Regions from separate parts of the Homo sapiens genome. Here region 2 is linked to region 1. The links come from fine-mapping of genetic effects on gene expression. Tissue or cell type: pancreatic islets. Region 1 holds a variant in brackets; the other region holds the start of a gene. All regions are shown on one strand. Distances are between the middles of the regions.

What was found. PIP is the estimated chance that this variant, and not a neighbour inherited with it, causes the effect.
Region 2: it holds the start of NDFIP1, and the variant in region 1 is fine-mapped to the expression of NDFIP1 in pancreatic islets (PISA, PIP 0.94).

The regions. Positions count from the first base shown.
Region 1 is chr5:142,184,277-142,192,454 of GRCh38, reverse strand. All of the region lies in intron 1 of LOC107986455 (a long non-coding RNA gene), which reads left to right. Among named protein-coding and RNA genes, the nearest start is that of NDFIP1, 80 kb to the right of the region's middle. RefSeq lists enhancers at 4,856-5,385, 6,359-7,254, 7,255-8,151. The variant C/TTCCTTCCC (reference allele first, on the strand shown) is at 3,883.
Region 2 is chr5:142,104,794-142,112,971 of GRCh38, reverse strand. NDFIP1 (Nedd4 family interacting protein 1) reads right to left here and starts at 4,193. Exons shown (of 8, transcript NM_030571.4): 1 at 3,935-4,193. The coding sequence starts at 3,997. RefSeq lists silencers at 3,764-3,833, 3,904-4,033, 4,094-4,363 and an enhancer at 3,941-4,442.

The DNA of each region.
Region 1 (8,178 bases):
GCGAATGACCCCATTGGGCCTGTTAGCACATCCCAGGGTTGCTCTCCCAGCCTGACAAAAAAGAAGTACGTTTCGCTTCCCCAAACTATGTAGGCTTGTGGTTGAAGACAATAAATACCCTTACCCTAGACCCCCATGGATAATTTGCAATAATCAACTTTACAAATAATAATCCTGTAAATTACATTTTGAAAGAAAGGGCTCAATCCATCAGCTCCTACACTCCTCCCTTTGTTGCCAGTTCACTGCTCAGACACCTCCCCTTAAGGGCGAGAGGGACAAAGAAGGGTTAGAATCCAGCTTTTTCATCACCTCCTCCATGAAGGCTGAGCTCTAAGACCACAACCCGTGACTGAAGCGAGGGTTTTGGATCATTTGTAATTGTTCTTGGACGACCCACGATTTTTTGTTTGCTAACACTAGTCCTGGGAGGAAATGAATTAGCTTTAACTGAGGACAGGTAGGAGGCCCAAATTCCTTCCACTGTAGATTTTACATTCTAAATGAATGACTGTGTGACAGGCTCTGGGGAGGAACCAGGGACAGTCACTTTTGTCTCTGACATGCCCAGTATCCTTTCCTCTGCCTTCAGGAACAGCTCCCAGGGTTGGTTTGGGATCCACCCTGCCACCCTCAAGGTGAGGCTCCAAAACACAGCCATGGGGAGGAACACACGTCCTAGCCTAAGCCAATCACTGTTCCAGATTCCCTGGGCCACGGGGCTTAGATCAGGAAAGGAAAAATGGCCCCAGGGGAGCCAATGGGCCACAGAGGCCTTTCCTGGGAATGCAGAGCCAGAGACGGGCACTCTCTCTGGCTAGACTTCGATCCTGAGGCTGAGGGGCTGCTGGTGCCACCCCATCTTGTCTTCACAAGGAGTCTACGGCGAGAAGAGAGGGAAGAGAGAGTCCAGGGTTGATGTGTGTCCTCTTTGGGCCCTGAATCCCTTCCATTCTCATCCCCACCCCCAGGCATCCTTGTATATGATCCAATAAATTGCTTCTTTTTTCTTTTTTTCTTTTCTCTTTTGTTTTTTTTTGAGACAGAGTCTCACACTGTTGCCCAGGCTGGAGTGCAGTGGTGCAGTCTCGGCCTACTGCAACCTCTGCCTCCCGGGATCAATCCATTCTCCTGCCTCAGCCTCCCGAGTAGCTGGGATTACAGGCGCCCACCACCATGTCTGGCTAATTTTTTCTATTTTTAGTAGAGACAGGGTTTTCACTATGTTGGCAAGGCAGGTCTCGAACTCCTGACCTTGTGATCCACCCACCTCAGCCTCCCAAAGTGCTGGGATTACAGGCGTGAGCCACTGCGCCCAGCCAAACTGCTTCGTTATTAAGCCAGAGTGGGCATGGGCTTTTCTGGGTCTTATAACCAAAATGGTCCTGTGTGACATACTAGTGTGCAAACTCTCGGAGACTGAAGCTTGAATCAAAAGCTGGAAAAGCAGTGGGACCCACTTTGACCAGTGAGCATCTTTGAATTAAACCCTGGACTATTCCATCAAAGTTACCATGGCCTATATTCTGTTACCTTTCTTCTCTTGGGAACGTGGGAATAGCAGAGGGAAAAAGCCTGAAATGTACGTTAATAGTAGGCCATTTAACGGAGGTTTACCCGCCATCTTACTACTGGTAGCCCACTCCCTCCCACTAAAAGGGCATTTTTTGCCCAGCCCCAGGGCTTAGAGTTCAGAGCTGCCTCACAATTTCACTGAAGAGCAGGACATTCTCTTACTGGGAATCACAGAGTCCTCTGAAAGCACAGGCCCTTATAAGTAAGGAATGAGCCTGAAGATAACACAGGGTTAATAATCTGCTTGTCAACACTTTGAAACTCTCTCTCAAAGTCAGTTCGCAGGCAGCAGAGCTAGCTGATGAAACCCTGAATCAGAGTCCTCATATGGGATATTTCCTCCCCTCTGAGCTCCAAACTACCATTCTGTTTCTTTGATGGTATAGGAAATTCATGGACTTATTCCCAAATTGAACTCTCAGAACATACTGGCCAACATAGCACGATCCCATCTCTTAAAATTGTGTGTGTGTGTGTGTGTGTGTGTGTGTGTGTGTGGAGGGGGTGCACACCTGTGGTCTCAGTTACTCAGGAAGCTAAAGCAGAAAGATCACTTGAGTCCAGGAGTTCGAGGCTACAATGAGCTATGATGGTGCCACTGCACTCCAGCCTGGGTGACAGAACGAGACCCTGTCTCAAAAAAATTTTTTTAAAGTGAAACACATAAAAAGATGCTCAGCACCTCTAAAACTAAAAACGAGTTATAATTTTACATCCACGAGATGGACTATGATGAAAACAATGGATAACATCCAACCCTGGTGAGGGTATGGAGAAATAAGTGCTCTTGTATCATGTTGAGGAGAGTGCGTATTATTAGTACACGGCCCCCTGCAGGTCTTCCTCTCCCCGCACATGCACACATGCTGCACCCCACATCAAGAGGCAGAGCTTGGCTCCCACCCCCTTTGAATCTGGGCTTGCCTTGTGACTGACTTTGATCAATAGAGTATGGCAGCAGTGACATTCTGGAACCCGGACCCATGCTGCGAGAAACTCAAGCCACATGGAGAGACCAGTAAGAGGGAAGCCAAAGGCGCTCCTGGGGATAGCCCCAGCCCAGCACCAGCCAGCACCAACTACCAGCCCCACCAGTGAGAACGTTCGGACCCTCCCTGTCCAGCACCACAGGAGGCAGAGCCACCACTTAGTCCACCTACAGAAACATGGGGAATAATGAATTATTGTTTTAAGCCATTTAATTTCGAGGGATTTGTTACTTAGGAATAGATAACAGAAACAATATTCATTGTCATCTTGTATGAAATAGAGAAAAAATTGGAAGCAAAAAGCCATCAGTAGGAGAATGGTTGCATAAATTATAGTCCAGCCATACCAGAAATGCTGCACAGCCATTAAGAAGATTGCTGTGAATCTGAATGAAGTGACAGAGGAAGGCCCCCAAGATAGGTTAATGAAAAAAACAATTTTTTGTTTGTTTTTTGAGACGGAGTCTCGCTCTGTCACCAGGCTGGAGCGCAGTGGCGCAATCTCGCTCACTGCAACCTCTGCCTCCCGGGTTCAAGCGATTCTCCCGCCTCAGCCTCTAGTAGCTGGGACTACAGGCACACGCCACCACACCTAGCTAATTTTTGTATTTTTTAGTATCGATGGGGTTTCACCATGTTGGCCAGGATGGTCTCAATCTCTTGATCTCATGATCTGCCCTCCTTGGCTCCCAAAGTGCTTTACAGGTGTGAGCCACCGCACCCGGCCAAAAAAAGCAATTTTTAAAACCATATGCCTAGTATGATTTTGCTATGTAAAAAATATGTGATTTGGGTAAACACATTTAAAACTATCAAAAAGATATACACCAAACCATCAACAGTATTTACTTATTGGGGGAAAAAATGGATTTGGGGCAAAAAAGCGTATACAAACTTTCACTTTTGATTTCTATACAGTTTAATTTCTTCTGCTGCTTCTTCCTCCTCCTCCTCTTCTTCTTCCTCTTCCTCCTCCTTCTTCTTCTCCTTCCTTCCTTCCTTTTTTTTGACGGAGTCTTGCTCTGTTGCCCAGGCTGGAGTGTAGTGGTGCAGTCTCGGCTCACTGCAACCTCTGCCTCCCGGATTCAAGTGATTCTCCTGCCTCAGCCTCCCGAGTAGCTGGAACTATAGGCATCCGCCACCAAGCCCAGCTAATTTTTGTATTTTTAGTAGAGACAAGGTTTCACCATGTTGGCCAGGCTGGTCTCGAACTCCTGACCTTGTGATCCGCTCACCTCGGCCTCCCAAAGTGCTGGGATTACAGGCTTGAGCCACTGTGGCCGGCCTTCTTTCCTTCCTTTCTTCCTTCCTTCCTTCC[C/TTCCTTCCC]TTCCTTCCCTTCCCTTCTCTTTCCTTCCTTCCTTCCTTCCTTCCCTCCTTTCCTTCTTCTTCTCCTTCTTCTTCTTCTTCCAATGAGCATGTACTCATGTTTTATAGTTTTATAATCTAATAAAAGAGGACAGATTTCCAAGCTTTTTTAACCCAGTCCCCTGGCTTCCTGAGAAGTTAGGTTGAGTCCGGTCTCATGTTAGCTGTCCTTTCACTGAGCACCTATGATAAAACCAGGCACCCCACATACTATTTCCAGTTCTCACAACAACTAGGCATTATTTTTCCAGTTTTAGAAATGCGCCCATGTGGGTTTAGAATGGATAGGGAATGTTCCAAGTGTCACCCAACTGAGTGGCGGAACCAGTGTTTTAATCCAGGTGGACCCCACTTCAAAGCCCTGGTGCCCTTTCAGGTAAGACCTGGGCCGGCCTGAAGGAGCTGATGGTCTGGCCGGGGACAAGAACTCACACATGGACAGAAACTACTGGATGCAATGACTGCACACAGGGACCTGGGTTCAAATCCCAGCTTCACTGCTGACCAGGTATGAAGCTGTGGACTAGTGACAGCCTCCTGTGTCTTAGCCATTGAGCAAGCATCTACTAAGTACCTCCCAGGTGACAGGTACTGCTCATGCCAGGTCCCCACCACCTTGGGAGGGAAATCCCTGCCCCATGGAGCTCATGATATAATACTTGAGCCAGATATGAAACAAGTAACCAGATAAACACATGATGTAACCACAGAGGATAATAAAAGCTAAGAAAAAGAAATACTGCCAGATGCAGTGGCCAGACATGTAGTCCCAGCTACTCAGGAGACTGAGGTGGGAGGTTCACCTGAGCTCTGGAGGTTGAGGTTGCAGTGAGCTGTGATCATGCCGCTGCACTCCAGCCTGGGTAAGAGAGCAAGACCCTGTCAAAAAGAAAGGAAGGAAGAGAGGGAGGGAGGAAGAAAGGGAGGAAGGAAGGGAGGGAGGGAGGAAAAGGAAAGAGAACAAAACATAAAAATGCCTCAATTTTCCTGTCTGTAAAATGGGATGCTGATGATGCCAATTTCACAGGACTCTCGTGCTGAGTCAATAAAATATTTTCTGTCAGATGCTTAGTGCCAAGCTGGGTGCACAATGAGTAAATGGGAGTGACGGTGCTGATATGCTAAGCTGTGTTTGTACAAGCTGTGATAAAGAATTTTTAAAAGGTGCATGACAAATATTTGCTAAATGAATGCAACAAAGAGCCATCACCTGGGCTAGAGCAGTCAGGGAGGACTTCCCAGAGGAGGCACCAGAGGAGCCTCTGCTCAAAGCTGGACCACACTCTGTAGGGCAAAGGCCTCCACCCTGCGCAAGAGGTTCTGGAGTGTCCAAACAGAAGACAGAGGCAAGGCAAACAGGCCAAGCACCCTGCTAATGTGGTTAGTTTGGGCCTTATCTCTGAAAGGAGCTGGGTCTCAGACAGCTTGTCGGGGCTGACCACAGGGCCTGCCGAGAAACCAGATTCAGAACATGCGCTTGCTGCTGCCACCACCGGGAGGGCGGTGCGGGTGGGGGTGCAGGAAGGCCTGGGGGAGCGCCGGGTTATTTGTTATGGGGTGAAGAGGAAGCTGTAAGTGGTCCTCTGTCCTCCATTAACAGCAGGATGGAGTCAGGCTGGAGCCACCAGCTTTGGAGTCAGCCTTGTTTTTTAAACACACATGGCTGGCCCAGGCCTTTTAACCCCCAAACACCCCAGGGTTCCTGCAGGAAAAAAACAGTAGCCTTTGGTCTAGAAACTCTGCAGCTGGGGTGTAGCTTAGGGCATTTCTTTTTAGCTCAGAAACAAACAGAAGATAAGAATATTGTGATAAAAGGAACTGTACTTTTATAATGGATTATTCAAAGTCAGGGAGTCTGGGATGGTTATAATTCTTTATACTTCAGACTCTTTAATGTACATCCACAAAGCTAAGAGCAAATAATAAAAATGGATTATCCTTGTCTGCAAAGAAACACAAACTATTTATTTCTACCCAGTCCTCCCCCACCCACTCTCATCACCAAAAGTTGATGCAAAGAAATATAAACGATTTACTGCAAAGAAATACAAAGGATTTATCTCTCTCAATCCTCCCCCACCCACTCTCATCACCTGAAAGTATGAGACCTAGAACCATTTACACAAGTCTATGAGTACTTCACCCCCTCTGAACCTCCCCCAACCCTGTTCATTGGGACCCATTCTATAGCACTCTTCGGTGGGGTGAAGGGGTGATTGTACCAGTGATTCTTAACTTTTTGGAGAAGTCCCAGACAATTTGGGAAGCTCATGAAGGCCATGGACCCTCTCCCTGGAAAGATGCACACCACACAGAATTGTGCACTGTATTTCAGCAGTTCCAAGACTTCTCAGTCTTGGAACAGTACTTCCCAGATACAGTACTTCCCAGGTCAGACCGATTGGTAAATTTCTTCCAGCTCTTATTCTACAACTGATTTGCTCCCATTCAATACATGAGATAATCCTTAGCAATCAGTCTGATGATAAAAAAAATCTCAGTGGCTCAGAAACACCCAGGAAGTGTTTCTAAGGCTCAATAGTTAGTAGGGTAAGAACGGTTACCACTGTGGGAGGACTAGGGCATTTGCAGCAGGCACCTGGATAGCAGCTCTGAATCCCCACTTAGACTGGTGACATGAGGATAGGGTCCCTAGGACCCTTACGGCCAACAGGATTTCCACTGCCTTATACCCACAGATAGGCTGAGAAGGTGAAGCTTCTCCAACCCCCCAGTGCCCATCATGTTCTCATGAGGTCTCACTCTGAGGCTATGCTCAGGCCCTATACTCCACAACAGGGGTCTGCAAGACCATGCTGCTGAGCAGGGGGCAGGCTGGGTCTGAGAGTCCAGTCCAGATGGGTTTGGGCCCCAGACTTTGGAGAAAAGGCAGAAGTGAACACAGACTAACCATGTCCTCATCCAGCCTGGATGAAGGATGACCCAAAGGCTGGAGCTACGGTTCACCCCAATCCAAACAACTACTGTGGAGGGTGTGGGAGGCTGTGTTTTCCAGAGCTTGCAGTTCTTTATCTACCAAATCGGGCTTCTGTACCACCTCCCCTCTCCCTGACACACAAGAATCATCCCAGCACTTCTGGAAAAGTTTCCAAGGCAAAACTGCTGCCCTGAAGGCAGTCCCTTCAGGAACCAGGGTGATCAGGACAAAGCAATTTCAGGAGGCGGGAAGATCATAATCCACAAGACTTTGGTCAGGCTCAGTGGGAGCAAGCCAGCCCCAAAATGCGGTAATGATTACTAACAGACGATGCTCCCAACCTTACACGTGTTCCACATCCACAAACTGGAAAAAATTGTCAAATTAAATATGAAACAGGAAGTAGAGATAAAGACCCATGCACACACTGCGCACAAACTCACATACACTCTTCTCGTTAGCATGGGATGAAAGCCAGTGGTGACGATTTTTAATTAGAAAGGAGGACTCATAGCTGCCTCCCAAGGCCAAGGCACTCGGCTCTGAACACCAGGCCAGAGTTAACCCTTGCAGCTCCAGGGCGGTGCCTCATTATAAATGGCCCCACTCTACAAAAATTAGCTGGGCATGGTGGTGGGTGCCTGCAGTCCCAGCTACTTGGGAGGCTGCGGCAGGAGAATTGCTTGAACCCAGGAGGCAGAGGTTGCAGTGAGCCAAGGTTGTGCCACTGCACTCCAGTCTGGGCAACAGGGCAAGACTCTGTCTCAAAAAAATAAAAAAAAGATAAATGGCCCCTGCCGGGAGTGGTGGCTCACGCCTGTAATCCCAGCACTTTGGAAGGCCGAGGCGAATGGATCACCTGAGGCCAGGAGTTTGAGACCAGCCTGGCCAACATGGTGAAACCCCATCTCTACTAAAAATACAAAATCAGCGGGGCGTGGCGACGCATGCCTGTAATCCCAGCTACTCGGGAGGCTGAGGCAGGAGAATCACTTGAACCCGGGAGGTGGAGGTTGAAGTGACCTGAGATTGCGCCATTGCCCTCCAGCCTGGGCAGCAAGAGCGAAACTCTGCCTCAAAAAAAAAAAAAAAAGAAAAAAAGATAAACGGCCCCACTGCTAGAGGAAGCTCATCAAAGTTTTCTAACCTTGCTTGGTTAATTAAAGAATCATTAAGAAATGGGTGGAGGGGATAGGAGGAAGAAAGGAAGAGAAGAGAAGAGAAAAAATCAAGGGGAGAAGAGACTCTCGTGGCAGCATCAACCCCTCCACCAGGAGAGTGCTGGTGTGGAGGCCATGCCCTCTGAAGCCTGAGAGAGA
Region 2 (8,178 bases), 79 kb after region 1:
AGTTAACGTCCTCAGAGAGAGAAACACGCAACAGGTTTCTCAGCACTCAGTATGGGCCTACTTAGGTCTTTCTAAAATAGTGCTTCCATACTGTCTGAGACAGTCTCAGTTTCAAAAGGCAAAAATGAAAAAAAAAATAAAATAATGCCAGGGGAACCTATAAGCCTAGCCTCTTTTTTTTTTTTTTGGACAGAGTCTCACTTCGTCGCCCAGCCTGGAGTGCAGTGGCGCGATCTCGGCTCACTGCAATCTTCACCTCCCGGGTTTCTCCTGCCTCAGCCTCCCGAGTAGCTGGGACTACTACAGGCACGTGCCACCACGCCCAACTAATTTTTTGTATTTTTAGTAGAGATGGGGTTTCACCATGTTAGCCAGGATGGTCTCGATCTCCTGACCTTGTGATCCGCCCACCTCGGTGCCTTTTTTTTTTTTTTTTTTTAAGACAGTCTTGCTCACCCAACCTGGAGTACAGTGGCGCGATCCCAGCCTACTGCAAACTCTGCCTCCTGGGTTCAAGTGATTTTCCTGCCTCAGCCTCCCAAGTAGCTGGAGTTACAGATGTGCACCACCACACCGTGCTTTTTTTTTTAAACAGAGTCTTGCTCTGTCGCCAGGCAGGAGTGCAGTGGCACGATCTCAGTTCACTGAAACATCTGCCTCCCAGGTTCAAGCGATTCTCCTGCCTCAGCCTCCTGAGTAGCTGGGACTACAGGTGCACGCCACCACGCCCAGCTAATTTTTGTATTTTTAATAGAGATGGGGTTTCACATGTTGGCCAGGATGGTCTCAATCTCTTGACCTCGTGATCTTTGTGATCTGCCTGCCTTGGCCTCCCAAAGTGCTGGGATTACAGGCATGAGCCACCTTGCCTGGCCATTTTTTGTTTTGTTTTGTTTTGGTTTTTTTTGAGACAGTCCCACTCTGTCACCCAGGCTGGGGTTCAGTGGCACAATCTTGGCTCACTGCAACTTCTGCCTCCCAGGTTCAAGCAATTCTCCTGCCTCAGCCTCCCAAGTAGCTGGGATTACAGGTGAGTGCCACCACACCTGGCTAATTTTTGTATTTTTAGTAGAGGCAAGGTTTTGCCATGTTGGCCAGGCTGGTCTCGAACTCCTGACCTCAAGTGATCCGCCCACCTCGGCCTCCCAAAGTGCTGTGATTACAGGTGTGAGCCACCACACCTGGTTGAGCCTACCCTTTCTGCATAGTCTGTCACTATGCTAAATTCAAGTTGTCCACATATTACACTACCAATAAAAAGACCATAAAGACAAAACTGTGTTTGCATTTATGAATGAATCATACAGTTTTCCATTACATTTACTTGGTGAGAAAACTAGCTCAATTTGATTAACCAGATCAAATAGAAGTCAGAACAGCCCTGTGTGACAACCAAAGAGTATCATGCTCCTATCAAGTTGCCTGGACAATTCACCATCATTCTATAATTCAAAAGCCTTTTAAAAATGCATATTCGCTGACCAGGCATTTCCATGGCTAGTAATTTATGCTAAGGAAACGGTTGAAGACGTATGTGAAATAAATTTCAATGAAAAAAACTGTAAACATTCTTAGTGACCAAAGATAAGCAATTAGTTAAATTATGATTCAGCCATACAATTACATGCCATGCAGACATTAAAAATATTTTATATAGAAGACATTAATAACATTGTGTGAAGAACATTACAAAATAGAATTATGAACCTATTTCATTATTTATCTAGCATGCCTTTGTAGATACATGTGCATGATACACATGTGCAAATGTATGAATGCACATGTCTGAGAACAAGATACACATGGACACGTGCAAAAGTATGTGCAAGTATGATCGGGGCTCATAAAACTGCACACAAATGTACAAAGATATGTCTGTATACGTATATATGGGTACATAAGAGAATACATATGCATGTGTATATATCTGCTAATGCATACACCTATATCTGGACTGTGAGCCTGTGTTTTAAGTAGGTGAGTGTGTGTATATCCTTATAATCACTACTTAGCAGCCTGTGACCTTGAGGCAAGTTACTGAGCCACTTTGAGTCTTTGACAATGAGAACAAACCCTGGTTCATAAGGGTTTGGTATGAATTAAAAGAAAAAAAAAATGGATGTAAATTACTTAATACTGTGATTGTTGCATAAAAAAATCAATATTAGCTTTCCTGCATTCCTTATCTGTACACACATATACTGATCTATAACTATGTATATTTACATAGCTATAAACCCACAAGAATGCACATTAAAATATTACCTTTGGTTATCTATTTGGTTTTTGTTTAGGGAGGGTTTTGCAGTTTTTTGGGCTTTCATCTTTTACAATTTTTCTAGGAAGATTTTTTTCTCTTTTTTTTATACTTCAATTCTGCATAATTAAAAAATATTAAATGCCACACTAAGGAATACATGATTTTGATACTCCAGCAAATTTTTTATATTCTAGCAGTATGTCAGCATTACCTAATAGCTCAAGAAGATGGCAGTACAAAGAAAAACCACAGCTCTTTTGCTCGTTAGCCTTATCCAAGTCAGGATGAAAAGGATGAAATCAGATGACAGTATACAGTAGGGGTGATTTGCAAACACTGTGGTGACAGTTAAGTGGCATCTGTTATTCCCATTTTATTAAAGCAGTAAGGAACCCGCAGGCTGCCCAAGGTCATAGAAAAAAAGCATGTGCTAGATCCATGTGCTCTGAAGAGATCTAAGGATTAACTGCATTGCCACAATTTGGGCCGTGTTTATAAAACCAAGAAGTGAAATTCTTAACTAGTCATTTTGGGAGTCCAAGCCTGAGTGGGGACGGATTGCAACACATGGCTGATGATAGCAAAACAAACCAGTAACCGGCCGGCCGCACCAGGGTTAATCTACGTTTTCATCGTACTGGCTGGCTTTCCTTACTTCTAAAATATAAAATTGTAGATCGTCTAAGATAGGACATTTTATTTGATAAAAGGAGGATTGACATCTGTATGCACCGAAAGCATCTGAAACATGACAAACACAAGCCGTTATTTGCGGTTCCAATCAACATCAGTTTACCACCTGGCTCAATTCCCACCATTACTGTATGTTAGATTAACACTTCCAAAAACCCTGCAGAAGGTCTCTAAATTTCCTGGGGGAACTTAGCTACAGACGCGGAGTGAAACAAGCAGCTCTTTTCCCTGGGGCCTCAATGTATTAAATCAAACCCGAGAAAATGATCCAATCATTTCCTATACATTTCCTCCCCAGCTATGCCATCAAATCTCTTAAAACGTCACTTCCAAGCATTTAAAATACACCCGGCACACGCCCTGCAGACTTCATCGTAGCTCTCCCTTTTGGGGCATCACCACAGCCAAACATCGCCTCTTCCAAATCTACTGCAAACTGCGGGCTTGTCTCTTGCTTCATTTTTTACTTTTGTCTTAAAACGGAGGCGAGGGGGATGGGTTTCGACAAACTAGGCTCTGAAACCCTGAGCAATAGCATCTTGCTGTGGGGAGCTATCGGCAGCAGCAGAGATTTTAATCTTTTCTCTCCACCCAGTTTCCGTTTCATGCTTTTTTCTTTCTTTCTTTTCCAATGACATCAAACCAAAGGTGGAAAAATGAAAAACGAATGCCTCAGATCGATGCCGCCTGTGGGTCGCGGGTTCTGACTCAGGGACCCGCCCGCCCTGGGAAATGCGGGAAACGAGGCCGGGAGGAGGACTTTCCACCGCCGGAGTCCCACCTGGGGTCGCAGACGGGCAGGCCGGGCCCGTGGCAGCCTCGAATCCGAGCCCGGGGCCCGACCCGCCCCTCCAGGCCCAGCGCGGCCTGCCAAGCCCCGGCGTCGAGTTGGCCGCGGGCCGGCCAGAGAGGCCTGAGGCGGCCAGCGGGCAGGGCAGAGCCAGGGACCGGAGTTCGGGGCTGGAGTCGGGCGCCGCTTACCTGCTGGTACCGGCTGCCGCAGGCCGGCTCGACCGCCGCCAGCGCCGCCAACGCCAACGCCATGGCGCAGCCGGCAGCAGGGAAGCAGAGCGAGCGAGCGAGCTAGCTGAAGGGGCGCGGCCGCTGCGGCTTGGGAGCGCTGGGAGGCCGAGGGGGACGCGCCTTGGGTGGGTCTCGATGGCCGCCGCCGCTCCCGGGCGAGACGCTCTTCTCAGGCTGTAAGCACCGCCGCCGCCGCCGAGGCTCCGACGCGGCCCCTGGGGAAGAGGCGGGGACTACGACGACGGCGCTGCGCCGCCGCCCCACCCCCGACTCGCGCCGCCCTGCCCGGCCCGGCCCGGCCTAGCCTAGTCCTGCGCCGCCGCCCCGAGGTGCACCGGCCCTGGTGTAGTTGCTCCGACGACCTGAGCCTCCGAGGCTCAAGTGTTGTATTCGATTCCACTAAAAACGAATTACTAACAGGCCAGCCCAAAGCAAGGGCGATGCTGCTGATGAGCACCTCGTGCCAAGCACTGAGCTTCACCTACGTGCCCTCATCCAGCCTTCAGCACAACCGCCCTGACGCAGGGACCACAACCCCATTCTCGAGGTCGTTGGCAACCAGAGAGGTTGACAATCTTCACAGCAGCGACCTGATCCCTCGTGTCTGGCAGCAGAATCGTGGTTCTTATTCACTCCCTTCTTTTATCTGCCGTACTCATAAACCAGGGGTCAGCCAGCGACAGGGAGGGGGCCAAATCCGGTCTGCCACCATGACTGTGAAAAGTACATGAAATTCAAGTTTCAGTGTCCATAAATAAAGTTTTATTGGAACACAGCAGCACCCATTTGTTTGGTATGGCCTGCAAACCCTATAATACTTGCTATCTGACATTTTACAGAAAAAGTTTGCTAACCCTAAATCCTTGAGAACTGCTTGGATCTCAAATCCTACTTAGGGTGGATGATTATAATAGCATCCTCATGTTTATGCCATCCTTTAGTATTTTAACAGCCTCATCTGCGGAATCGGAAACAATATTTTCCAAAAAAGCTCCCTGACTCGGTGACATGAAGTCAAAACTTGAAGGGTTTGGCCATGCTAAAGGCTTTCCCGACCACAGGAACAGGTGCAAAGGGCGGTCCAGAGAGAGATTGTCTTGTGGAAGAACAGAAAGGAGGCTGGCATAGCTGCCATATAGGAGATACAATTATCAGTGTTTCACAGATGAGGAAGTTATGCCCAAAGAAATTAAATATCTCACCCAATGACACAGAGCTACTAAGGGGTGAAGCTGGAATACAACTCCATTAAGCCAGCTTTCTTACCCAGTATTGCACAACTAAATTATAAGCTTTGTGAAGACAAGAGTATTTGTCTTTTAAATCTTATTACCTCCCAATGCCATGTAGCACAGTATAGCTATATAGCAGGCTTGCAAGGTCTGTTTCTTTCACACCCAGCCATCTGCAATTGCTTCTACCCACATGTCCTACAGAGAAAAACAAAATCTTCCATCTCTGAAGCTTGTTGCAATTCCCATTTCTTCTTCATTGCCTTTCCAAGTTGGCAGTGTAGAGGTTATATTAATATGATTATTGTCTTAGCTTCTAATTTTGAAGTTTAGTTAATTATGTATTTTAAAAGAGAACTGTGTTTAGAACACACCCTGAGGTTTCTGTATATATGAGAAAATTGTAATCAATAAAAACTCTAGATGTTTACCATCTTCACTTTGAGTTCTCTCTCAGCATCCAAACTCCTCTATATCTGTCGCTATTTCCAAGTATTAGTCTCACATATTAACATGCTGGGAGAGCGAACAAATGTAGCAACATTCCAAGCTCTCAAGTCTATTTAGAGCCTCCTTACTCTGTCCCTCAGTTGTTGTTTATAATCCAGAAAAACAACATTTAAATGTAATCAGGTACAGTGAATCAAACATAATGTCCTGCCATGTAGTCTTGTATAAAGGGTGCAAAAATCTAATTTGAAATTTTTTAAAATGTCAGCAGTGGAAAGTAGAAATCCAGACTTCTTTGTCCAGATTGTCTACATTTACGTGTAAGAAAGAATAAAAAAGAATGTCCACTGGGCACAGTGGCTCACATCTGTAATCTCAGCACTTTGAGAGCCTGAGACTCGAGGATCACGTGAGCCCAGGAGCCAGGAGTTCGAGACCAACCTGGGCAACATAGTGAGACACAATCTCTGAAAAAAAAAAAGAAAAAGAAAAAAGAATTTGTCGGCCTACCACATAAGGCTATTGGAGCAACAACTGCAATCTTTATGCATGTCTGCAGTGCTGTGGCTTTTGTGGAAAAGATGTTGCTACCCTTCTATTTCTTTCCTAAATTACTTTCTCCCTCAATATCTATATACTCCCTGCATGTGGACACAAATATTTATCATAATATAAATAACAGGCTTTATCATAGAAATATTTTGCATTGAAAGTAAAAGAAAATTGATCTCCAACTTCTAATCTCCTTTTCCTATGTCCTCAACCAAAATGTTTTGTAGTCACGGTAAAGATTTTGGTCTTTTTTTTCTTGAGTTCCCCAAAGCCTCTAATAAGTAAATTGAGATTATTTGCCTTGATTTGATGGGTGGATAAATTGGAGAATTGAGAAATTGAGTCACTGCTATATTAGGCCTCCAGCTGGCAGGCAAATTGTACAACGAAGGGGAAAACTGAATTTCTGGCTCACAGATCCATGCCTGGTGCAAGCCAAGCAGACAGAGAAGATAATCCAAAGCCATAAAAATTGTGCTCTTTGGCTTCATCTCGAGATGTTGTCAAGAGAGTTTCCACAGAGAAAGTTATTAATTTCAGATTGCTGCACTTAGAAACTTATTTCCCCACAGAATAACAGTAATACTTTCCATGTGCAGTACTGCATATGTGAATTGCTGACTCTGAATCATCCCTCCTGAGAGAGAAAAGAAACATGGACAAGTATAAGCATAACTCATGTCCGTATCCCTTTCCCCCTGCAATATAGATACAAATCTCTAGGATAAATGTGACCTTCTGTCTTTCATATCCACATGAGGCTTGACCTAGGTAGTGCAGAGCTCAGTAAGTAACCAAGAAGGGTTTGTTAAATGTGTTAAATTTAGACAAAAGCCTCATTAGTCTAATATCTCATTTGAGGCCTTGAACTTCTCCAGCTAGTCTTCACAGGGCTCCAATTAAACCATGAAGTTTTATTTCTATGACTTACTACTTCTTTTAATTCTCACTACATTACCACAAGGTTCATTAAGAGCAAAAGGTAATATCTTCATATTACAAATAAAGAAATTATCCACTGATAATTACTACTGTTATGGAGCACTTCCAGAATCTTGGACCTGATGGTACATCATCTGCTTAATCTTCATAACAAACCCATTCTGCAGATTCTTGAAGAGACTCAGGAAATTTACATAACCTACTCAGCTTTGTGAGCGGTGGAGTCGAAACGCAAACTGGGATTTGTCTGGCTCCAAAATGTATGCACTGCTTTGGGTGTGGAGAGAAATACGGGACATAAATAGACAGGAGATAGAAAGTTCTAACCTTTGGAGTCTTCATGATGAAATAGAGATGATAGTAAACACTTATTTGAGACATTTTTAAAATATAAAACTTACAAGTTATTTACAACTGTGTTGAGCTATATTAACTAATGCTGAGAGATAGTGAAGAGAATTATGTGGCCAGCTGGGATAATCAGGTAAGGATTGGGAAGAAAGGGTTTTGAACGAGAAAAGGGCTTTGTTGGCCAGGTGTGGTGGCTCACGCCTGTAATCCCAGCACTTTGGGAGGCCGAGGCGGGAGGATCACCTGAGGTTGGGAGTTGGAGACCAGCCTGACCATCATGGAGAAACCCCATCTCTACTAAAAATACAAAAAACTTAGCCGGGCGTGGTGGTACATGCCTGTAATCCCAGCTACTTGGGAGGCTAAGGCAGGAGAATCACTTGAACCTGAGAGGCGGAGGTTGCAGTGAGCCGAGATCGCGCCATTGCACTCCAGCCTGGGCAACAAGAGTGAAACTTCATCTAAAAAAAAAAAACAGAAAGAAATAAAAGGGCTTTGCTGTCATGGGAAGAGAGAAAGTTGTCAACCTGAAATAACAACAGAGAGATTCTCCAAAGACAGTGAGTTTATTTGTGAATCCTCAAGATTGCAATCTGGGATATGTATGCACCTCATGAAGGGCCATGGATGTACCCAGAGAGGGAAAGGAAGGCAAAGGTTTTAAAGGCAAAATGA